Linked DNA regions of Homo sapiens. The protein of the gene in region 1 purifies or fractionates together with the protein of each later gene. This does not show direct contact. Each region holds a gene or a part of one and is shown on either strand. Other genes may lie near its edges.

The links. The genes of interacting proteins can lie anywhere in the genome.
Region 2: the proteins of OSBPL8 (region 1) and FGD1 purify together in Homo sapiens (affinity purification with mass spectrometry; one large-scale study listed by BioGRID and IntAct). This does not show direct contact.

Annotation. Positions count from the first base shown.
Region 1 is NC_000012.12:76,370,943-76,374,829, forward strand, and holds part of OSBPL8 (oxysterol-binding protein-related protein 8), read right to left. Parts: intron 2,492-3,887; coding exon 2,402-2,491; intron 643-2,401; coding exon 506-642; intron 1-505. UniProt on the Homo sapiens protein: Lipid transporter involved in lipid countertransport between the endoplasmic reticulum and the plasma membrane: specifically exchanges phosphatidylserine with phosphatidylinositol 4-phosphate (PI4P), delivering phosphatidylserine to the plasma membrane in exchange for PI4P, which is degraded by the SAC1/SACM1L phosphatase in the endoplasmic reticulum.
Region 2 is NC_000023.11:54,468,601-54,472,487, forward strand, and holds part of FGD1 (FYVE, RhoGEF and PH domain-containing protein 1), read right to left. Parts: intron 2,888-3,887; coding exon 2,714-2,887; intron 2,161-2,713; coding exon 1,983-2,160; intron 1,858-1,982; coding exon 1,416-1,857; intron 277-1,415; coding exon 187-276; intron 1-186. UniProt on the Homo sapiens protein: Activates CDC42, a member of the Ras-like family of Rho- and Rac proteins, by exchanging bound GDP for free GTP. Plays a role in regulating the actin cytoskeleton and cell shape.

The DNA of each region.
Region 1 (3,887 bases):
CCATCTAGCAAGAAGTTCATGACTTAAGAACAGAAATGATAGCCTTAGTTATTACCCAACTAATAAATCCTATAGAAGCCAGTCCATCCAGTAACTTTACTTTTGTATCAGAGAATGGAACAGAAGTAGATTCTGCACCACTCCCTTTACCTAGAGTTCTAATGCTTAAATCAGGTTAGAAAACTGTTGCCAGGTAGAAACTAAGAGTCATTAATTAGTCCTGTAATCTTATTTAAACAAAAACGTTCTTTCTTTCTTTTTTTTTAAGGTGCTGGAACAATTGAGAAAGAAAAAAATGAGTAGTTTTGAGCTACAGAAAAGCAAGACGATTTATATTATATTTGACATTCATATACACAAAAACAGAATACTGTCACTTCCACAAATGATAAACTATTTTGCTGAATTAAGATATGACAGAAGGTGACAAAATGACCATATCATTAAGGAATTGAAAAACTACTCTCTGATCCTCATGAAGTTAGCTGTAAAACAGTATACTTACTTCTCTGATTCAAAATCTCCCTGTTCTTCAAATTTTACAGTGTGCCTTATTAATCTCCATTGCTTAATGTCAGGTGTTGGATTCCAGAAAACCTCTGAATTATCAGTCTTTTTATCAGTAATAAAAACTTCACTATCCTATATTTAAAAAAATTCAAAATTAATGTAAAGAATTATACTTAGAAGGCAATTATATAGTATAGTAATATGACGGTGATAATTTCTTCTGGTTAATCCTCCAGTTAAAAGCATTTTTAAAACAAATATAACTAGCACTTTTCCAAAAACTCCAAGTTTCTTATCATTTTTATAAAAACATTAAGATTGACTACGTAATACTAGTTAATTAAAAAGAATTTGGTTGAATATCCAGTTTGTGAAATTTCATAAGTTTTACTTAATAAATTTCAAACATTACATGCAAAGCCTCAATAACCATCTCCAAACTGTCCAAGTAGAGCATAGTATTTGTTGCAGCTACAATGAGATGCTGTTGACTATCCATGGATTCAATATACTCAAACATACACACACACACATCCCTCTGAAAGAGCCTTTACTAGCATTAAAAATTTGAGGTCTATCTCTATCGAATAATCTTTCTATCTAAGACATGGACGGTCTTGCTCTCTTGTGTAGGCTGGAGTGCAGCGGTGCTATCTACCTTATCTATCTAATCTATTTTACCTATCTAATTTATCTACCTGTTTAACCATCCTTCTCCTTCTCTCTCTCTCTGTCATCTCTCACTCTCATCTCTATCTTATCTATCTGTCTGAGACAGGGTCTTGCTTTCTCACCCAGGCTGGAGGGCAGTAGCACAATCATGGCTCACTGCAGCTTCCACCTCCCAGGCTCAAGCAATCTTCCTGCCTTAGCTTCCTGAGTAGCTGGGACAGGCATGTGCCATCATGCCCATCTAATTTTTTTATTTTTATGTTTAGTAGAGAAGAGGTCTTGTTATGTCACCCAGGCTGATCTCAAACTCCTGAGCTTCCCAAAGTGCTGGAATTATAGGTGTGAGCCACCCCACCCAGACAGAAATTTCATTTTTTAAAAATGACTGCTGCTTTATCTTTTTTCCAGAAGACTCTCAGATTTAAGGCAATTAAAAAAAATTTTCAGAGTGTATGTGGCCACTTAACAAAGTCCCTAACTTCACTTTCTCATATTTCTCAACATTTTCTGCTTACTGCATGCAGAAAGGAGCATATACTCAGTGCTCATAGTATGGTATATCCATGCAGTACCATGATTCTTTTTATTCATTTAAGCGTCTCTTAACAAAATTACATAAATATGAATTTAGGTTAGCAGAGAAGTAAATAAAAGCCATTGCTCTCACACACCACTATATCCTTTCCATGTTCCACTGAAAGGAATATAACTCTAATTGGAACTATGCCTCTTTCTTCTATGTGAGTAGAGTGCTGTGCATAAAAGCACAGTCCTGGGGCCAGGGTTCCTGGGCTTTAATTCTTGTTCCACTACCTACTTTGAGCAAATTATGTGAACTCTCTGTGCCTCAGTGTCCTCTTCTGTAAAATGGGGACAATAATAAACAATAATAAAATGGGCATGGCACCTATATACTCACCTCATAGCGTTATATGTTATAAATATTAAATCAGTTAATATGAGTAACATTCTTAAATAATGCAGTAAGTCATATATAAGTGTTAGCTATTTCTACTGATTTTAAGTTTTGGAAATAAAATATTACACAAAATTAACTACTGTTGATAACAGAACACCACCAAAATATCTGCTATTAAGATGAAGCTTATGTTAAATAGTGATGTTTTCAGCAACGGAATAAGTTTTAAATTTTAAATGTGATTTTTTTTTTCCCACAGAATAAAATTCTTTTTGTAAAGCTCATATACAAAATACTTACCCAATGACCTTCCAAAGTAGCTAGGACTTCTTTTCCCAGTTTAAGTTTCCCTGATATTTGATTAACACAGTCACTACTCCCTAGGAATGGCTTTTAAACGAGAAAATGTTAAACATTTTACTTTTCACTTATATTTACATATAATGTAAAACCAAAACAAAAAACCCAACAAAAATTGCTTGTATAGTTACAGTACTATTGAATGCACAAGCAGTAAAAAAATACTGACTCAAATTTTAGTTAGAAATGTTTAATAAGAAATCTGAATTGCTGCTATGAAAAAAATAGGATAAAACAAGCAGACTATATTAAATCAAAATAAACATATTAAGAAAGATCACCCTGATATAACTGACTCATGTTCCATGTATGCTCAAATCCTGTGTCCTCCCCTGTCAAGACTGTGCCCTATCAATGTGACGTTATCTTAAGCAATAACAACTCAATAAACCTAATGGAATTAACGATCCATTGAAATAAATAACACCCCTTCCTTAAAAAACAAACAAACAAAAGTAAAATATATAGCCAAAAAAAGCCTCCAAAAAATAAAATTAGAAGGAATACACTGAGTTACTATAATGCCTTACTAACATCTCTCCTTAGAGACAAAATTTTGATGCTCCAATGTCATACTTAAAGGCATCATATATACTTAAGAACTCATTCATCATGATCTTCAAACATTATCATCACCATACAAGGAAAATTTTGCCAAGGTGAAAGAAAAATAAAATAAAAGACATTGCATCAAATAATACTTAAGAGGTCTTTTTTATCAGAGCAAAATTGCTTATCAGCTGGATATCAACATAGCAGCAATTTAGTAATAAATATTACTAGTTTACAGAAATATTTTTATCTGAATATACTATTGTTCAAGAACAATTAATTCACATTAAGTTCTCAAATTTCCCTTTCATTTTGAGGCAGACAAAAATTTCCAAAGATGGCCTTGACAATACGTACCCTCTCCCCTTCAGCCCACATACTCTTCCTCAAGGAGACCTTGCCACTCTCCCAATGAGAAGTGGGGTCTATATTTCTTCTCCTTGAATTTGGGTGGTCTTACAATTCTCCAAATAATAGAAGATGGTGGAAGTGATATAATTTGGCTTCTCAGGCTAGGTCATGGAAAGGAAATGCAGTTTCTGTCTTGCTCACTGGGGCACTTGCACTTTGAAACCCTCAACTGCCAAGTAAGAAGTCTACTTTGAGGCTGTCATGCTGTCAGGAAATCAAGTCACATGGAAAGGCCATGTATACAGGTGCTCAGATTAGCAGTTCTAGTCCTTCGGTCACCCTAGACCAGGTATCAGATATGTAAGTGATAAGCCTTCAGGTGATTACAGTCCCTAACTATTGAGTCACCCATGGCCTACAAAGTCTTTCTGAGACCCCAGACATTATGAAGCAGAGATAAGCTATCCCCAGTATACCCTGTCCAAATTTTTGACTCACAGAACTCATGAGGAACAGCACATAG
Region 2 (3,887 bases), on another chromosome or scaffold:
CACTGATCAAGCTTGGGGCATAATCAGAGATGGCTTCAGGGACAAGCTGACTTCAAGGTCAGAGAGGAGCCTTACTGCCTCTAAATTCTGGCCACAATGGTGGGATTGAACTCAGGCCCTATCACTGCCTCCTTGAAACGCACCTACAAGGTCCTGGGGCCCTCGTACCCCCAAGGGGCCACTCACCTGATCCAGGAGATGGAGCCTGGAAACGTAGGCCTTCTCAGTTTGCAGGAGCTCATTGGCAATGTGAAACACCTTTTGCTGCACAGTCAACTGGAAAGGAGAAACAGTAACCCCTGATCCATCATCCTCTATCGTAACCCTCACCCAAGCCCCCAGAATTCTTAAAACAGTTCCCATGCCACTCTAAGCCTAATACCACCCTAGGATAACCTTGACCCCCATCTCTAGATCTGTAAGTCCTTCAGCTTCATCCCTGAGTCCCCAGTCTACCATAAAGCCTACCCCTCCATTCTGATGACGTGCACTCCCTCACTCAACAACTCATTCACCCGCTCTCTCTATTCACTCAGCAGAGTGTAGTGGTTAAGCATGTGGGATGGTAAGTCAGACTTCCTGGGTTCAAATCCTAAGCTCTGCCATTCACTAGCTTGTGTAAGTTCTTTAACAGCTCTGTATTTAGGACGCCTCATCCATAAATACAGATAATAATAGAATCTATTTAATGTAGAGGCTGGTGAGAAACAAAAACAAAACCAAAACAAAATAATAATAGGACTGAAGTCCATTGGTAATGGAGACAATTAGATAATTTAATATAAATAAAACACATCAGACTACAGATTAAATGGTATATAAATGTTAATTAATCATTTATTCACCCACTCAGTACACTATCAGCAAGGGCTTGCTGAGTACCTGGGGTGTGAGAAAAGCACAAAAGTATAAGAACGTATAAAACTCATTGCCTGTTGGCCTAGTTTCCTATTCCTTAGATATATGTGTTGACTACCTGCCATGCCGGCAGTCCCTGGCTTTGGCCCCTACACTTGAGCTTGGTCCTAGCAGAGCAAGTATTCCGGCTGAGATCTAACTCAAGTGCGATGGTGCCTTCTGAAGAAATGTTAGGCTGCCCGGGCACAGAAAGGGGTCTCTGCTGCCAAGAGCCTTCATCTGCACAGCCTCGGGCCCCTGCAGGGCTCTAGCTCTTGCGCCCCTCCTCCAGCTGTTGAGAAGTCTCTATGGATGTAAGTAAGAGACTTTCCGTATTACAAATAAGGAAACTGAGGCTTATGGTAGGGAAGCAGAAAGGGAAAAGACTTGCCCAGTGTCACAGAGCTTGGAAACAAGGTCCTATTTCGAGAAATACTGAGCTAGGGGAAGAATCAAGCACAAAAGGCGCTTCCAGGTTCTCCACATGGACCTGCCTCTCGGTGAACACAGGTCAGTACCTCCACAGACTCCTGTCTCTCCATCAGGGGCACTGGGATTTCTCTGTCCTTCTCTTCCTCCTCCTCCTCGTCGTCCTCCTCCTCCAGGTCACTGTCAACCTCTTGGGAGCCAGGCCGGTGGGGGTCGGCCAAGGCAACAGGCACACTAGCCAGGGCAGGGGGCCCAGGGCAGAGGCTGTGGCTGGGGGGCCCGTCATCACTGACGAAGCAGGTCTCCTCGCTGTTGGATGGCGAGCTGATGCTATCAATGCCGCTGTCCCGGTTGGGCACCTTCTCACCGTCCCGGGGCCCAGGAGCCAGCAGAAACAGGCAGCGGGAGGCCTCACCCTCGGGGAGCTGGGGCACTGGTGGCTGCGAGGTTGGCTGTGGCAACATGACTGGCTCTGGGGGACCTGGGCTGGGGCCAGGGACTGGTCTATCCGAGGCGACAATCACAGGCTCTCTGAGGTGGGTGGTGGACACACATGGAAGCAGGGTATGAGCTTGACTGAGAGGCCTCTCCTGACTATCCCTTCCTGTCCCAGGCTCCCCCTTTCCCCTAGAGGGTGCCCTAGGGACCAGACTCACCTTTCAAACTTCTCAATCAGTGAGGATACTGCTGCAGAACTGGGGCTGGCCTCTGCCCTGGGAGCCAGGCCCTTGGCCACTCGGGGGTCGGCAGGCAGTGGGCGTGATGGTGGAGGGGGGATGGGCTCCAGTGGGGGGGGCATCCGGGGCATCTGCAGGTAGCTGGGCTTTGGGGGCACTGGAGAGACGAATGGGGAAGAGAGAAGGGAGACATCAGTGAGCTGGATTTGAGCCTGGCTAACATGGTGAAACCCCATCTCTACTAAAAATACAAAAATTAGCTGGGCATGGTGGCACGTGCCTGTAGTCCCAGCTACTTGGGAGGCTGAGGCAGGATAATTGCTTGAACTCAGGAGGCGGAGGTTGCAGTGAGCCAAGATCATGTCACTGCACTCCAGCCTGGTGACAGAGTGAGATTCTGTCTCAAAAAAAAAAAAAAAAAAAGCTGGATTTGGAGGTGGCTGGCTGTCATGGCCAGGCCACAACCCCTTCCACAAACACCAATCTGCACCTTTGCCTGAGGTAGACACAAAGGGGCTAAGGTGAGATCACAGTATGCACACATTAGCCTCAGGCCACAGCACTCTGTGCACTAGGTAGGTAGCACTGCCCTGGGAGCATGGTGGCTCCCTATCCTTCTAACAAACCCTCTTCTCTGCCACTGGCTAACTTCTCCCCTCCTCTGTACCCTCCCCTGGGCCACTTCTCTGCTCTTTTCCAGGACCACTTACCCTGTGGCTTCGGGCCCGGTGCCCGCTTCAGTGGTGAAGGACGCTGGCTAGGGGTTTCAGTCGGGGGACCTGGGTCTGAGCGAAGCCGCTGGGGACCTTCTGGATGAGGCTCTAGGCTTTGGCCAGGGTCAAGGGACAAACTTTTAACCAGGATCCGGTTTCCCTGGTGCAGCCCTGCAGGAAGGGAGAAAATGGGTGTGAAGTAACTGACTTTAACCCAAAGGGGACTGGGGTTAAAGTTAGGACTGGCATGTCTTAGCAGCTATCTGGGGTATTGGGTTTCTCTGAGCCCCTTTCCTGGCCACAGTGTTTTTCTGGGAAGCCCCTATCCTAGCCCTCAGATGGAGAGCCAGACCCAGGGCTGGGGCTGGCTGTTTTCATCAATAGATAAGAATTCTTTGTGACTAGTGCATTGATTCCATGTATGTCAGCAGGCAGTATCACTAGGGAGTTTAACCAGGCTGGGGGTGGCTGTGAGCACCCTAAAGTTTATACATGCGTTTGCAGCCCTTGTTTCTACAGCCACATAGGTATGCTGAGTATAAACCATTCTTCAACGCTTTTGTTAAGGCCCTGAGAATATCTAGACTTTCTTGTTTACAATTTTGTGCAGCTAAGTGTGCTTAAAAATGATGAAATTGTGTTTCATGAGCAAGTTTTGCTTCTTGAAATCCCAACTTCTGGCTGGGCACAGTGGCTCATGCCTGTAATCCCAGCATTTTGGGAAGCTGAGAAGGGAGGATTGCTTGAGCTCAGGAATTTGAGATGAGTTTGGGCAACAAAGTGAGACCCTGTCTCTACAAAAAATATAAAAGTTAGCTGGGCAGTGTGGTGTGCACCTGTATTCCCAGATACTTGGGAGGCTGAGGTGGGAGGATCACTTGAGCCTGGGAGGTGGAGGTTGCAGGGAGCTGAGATCACCCCACTGCACTCCAGCCTGGACAAAAGAGCAAGACGCTGTCTCAAGAAAAAAAAAAAAAAGAAGAAAAATGAAAAAGAAAATCCCAACTTCTCAGCAATCTGTACTACCTTCCTCAACTTCCACATCTACACAGACCCACATGCATCTTCCACCTCTGCCACACACACACGTGCAACATCCAGAGTTCAGGTCACAGGAATAACTTTAAATCAAGCAGCCAGTTCAGAAAAAGGGGAGGCCTTTTTATACTGT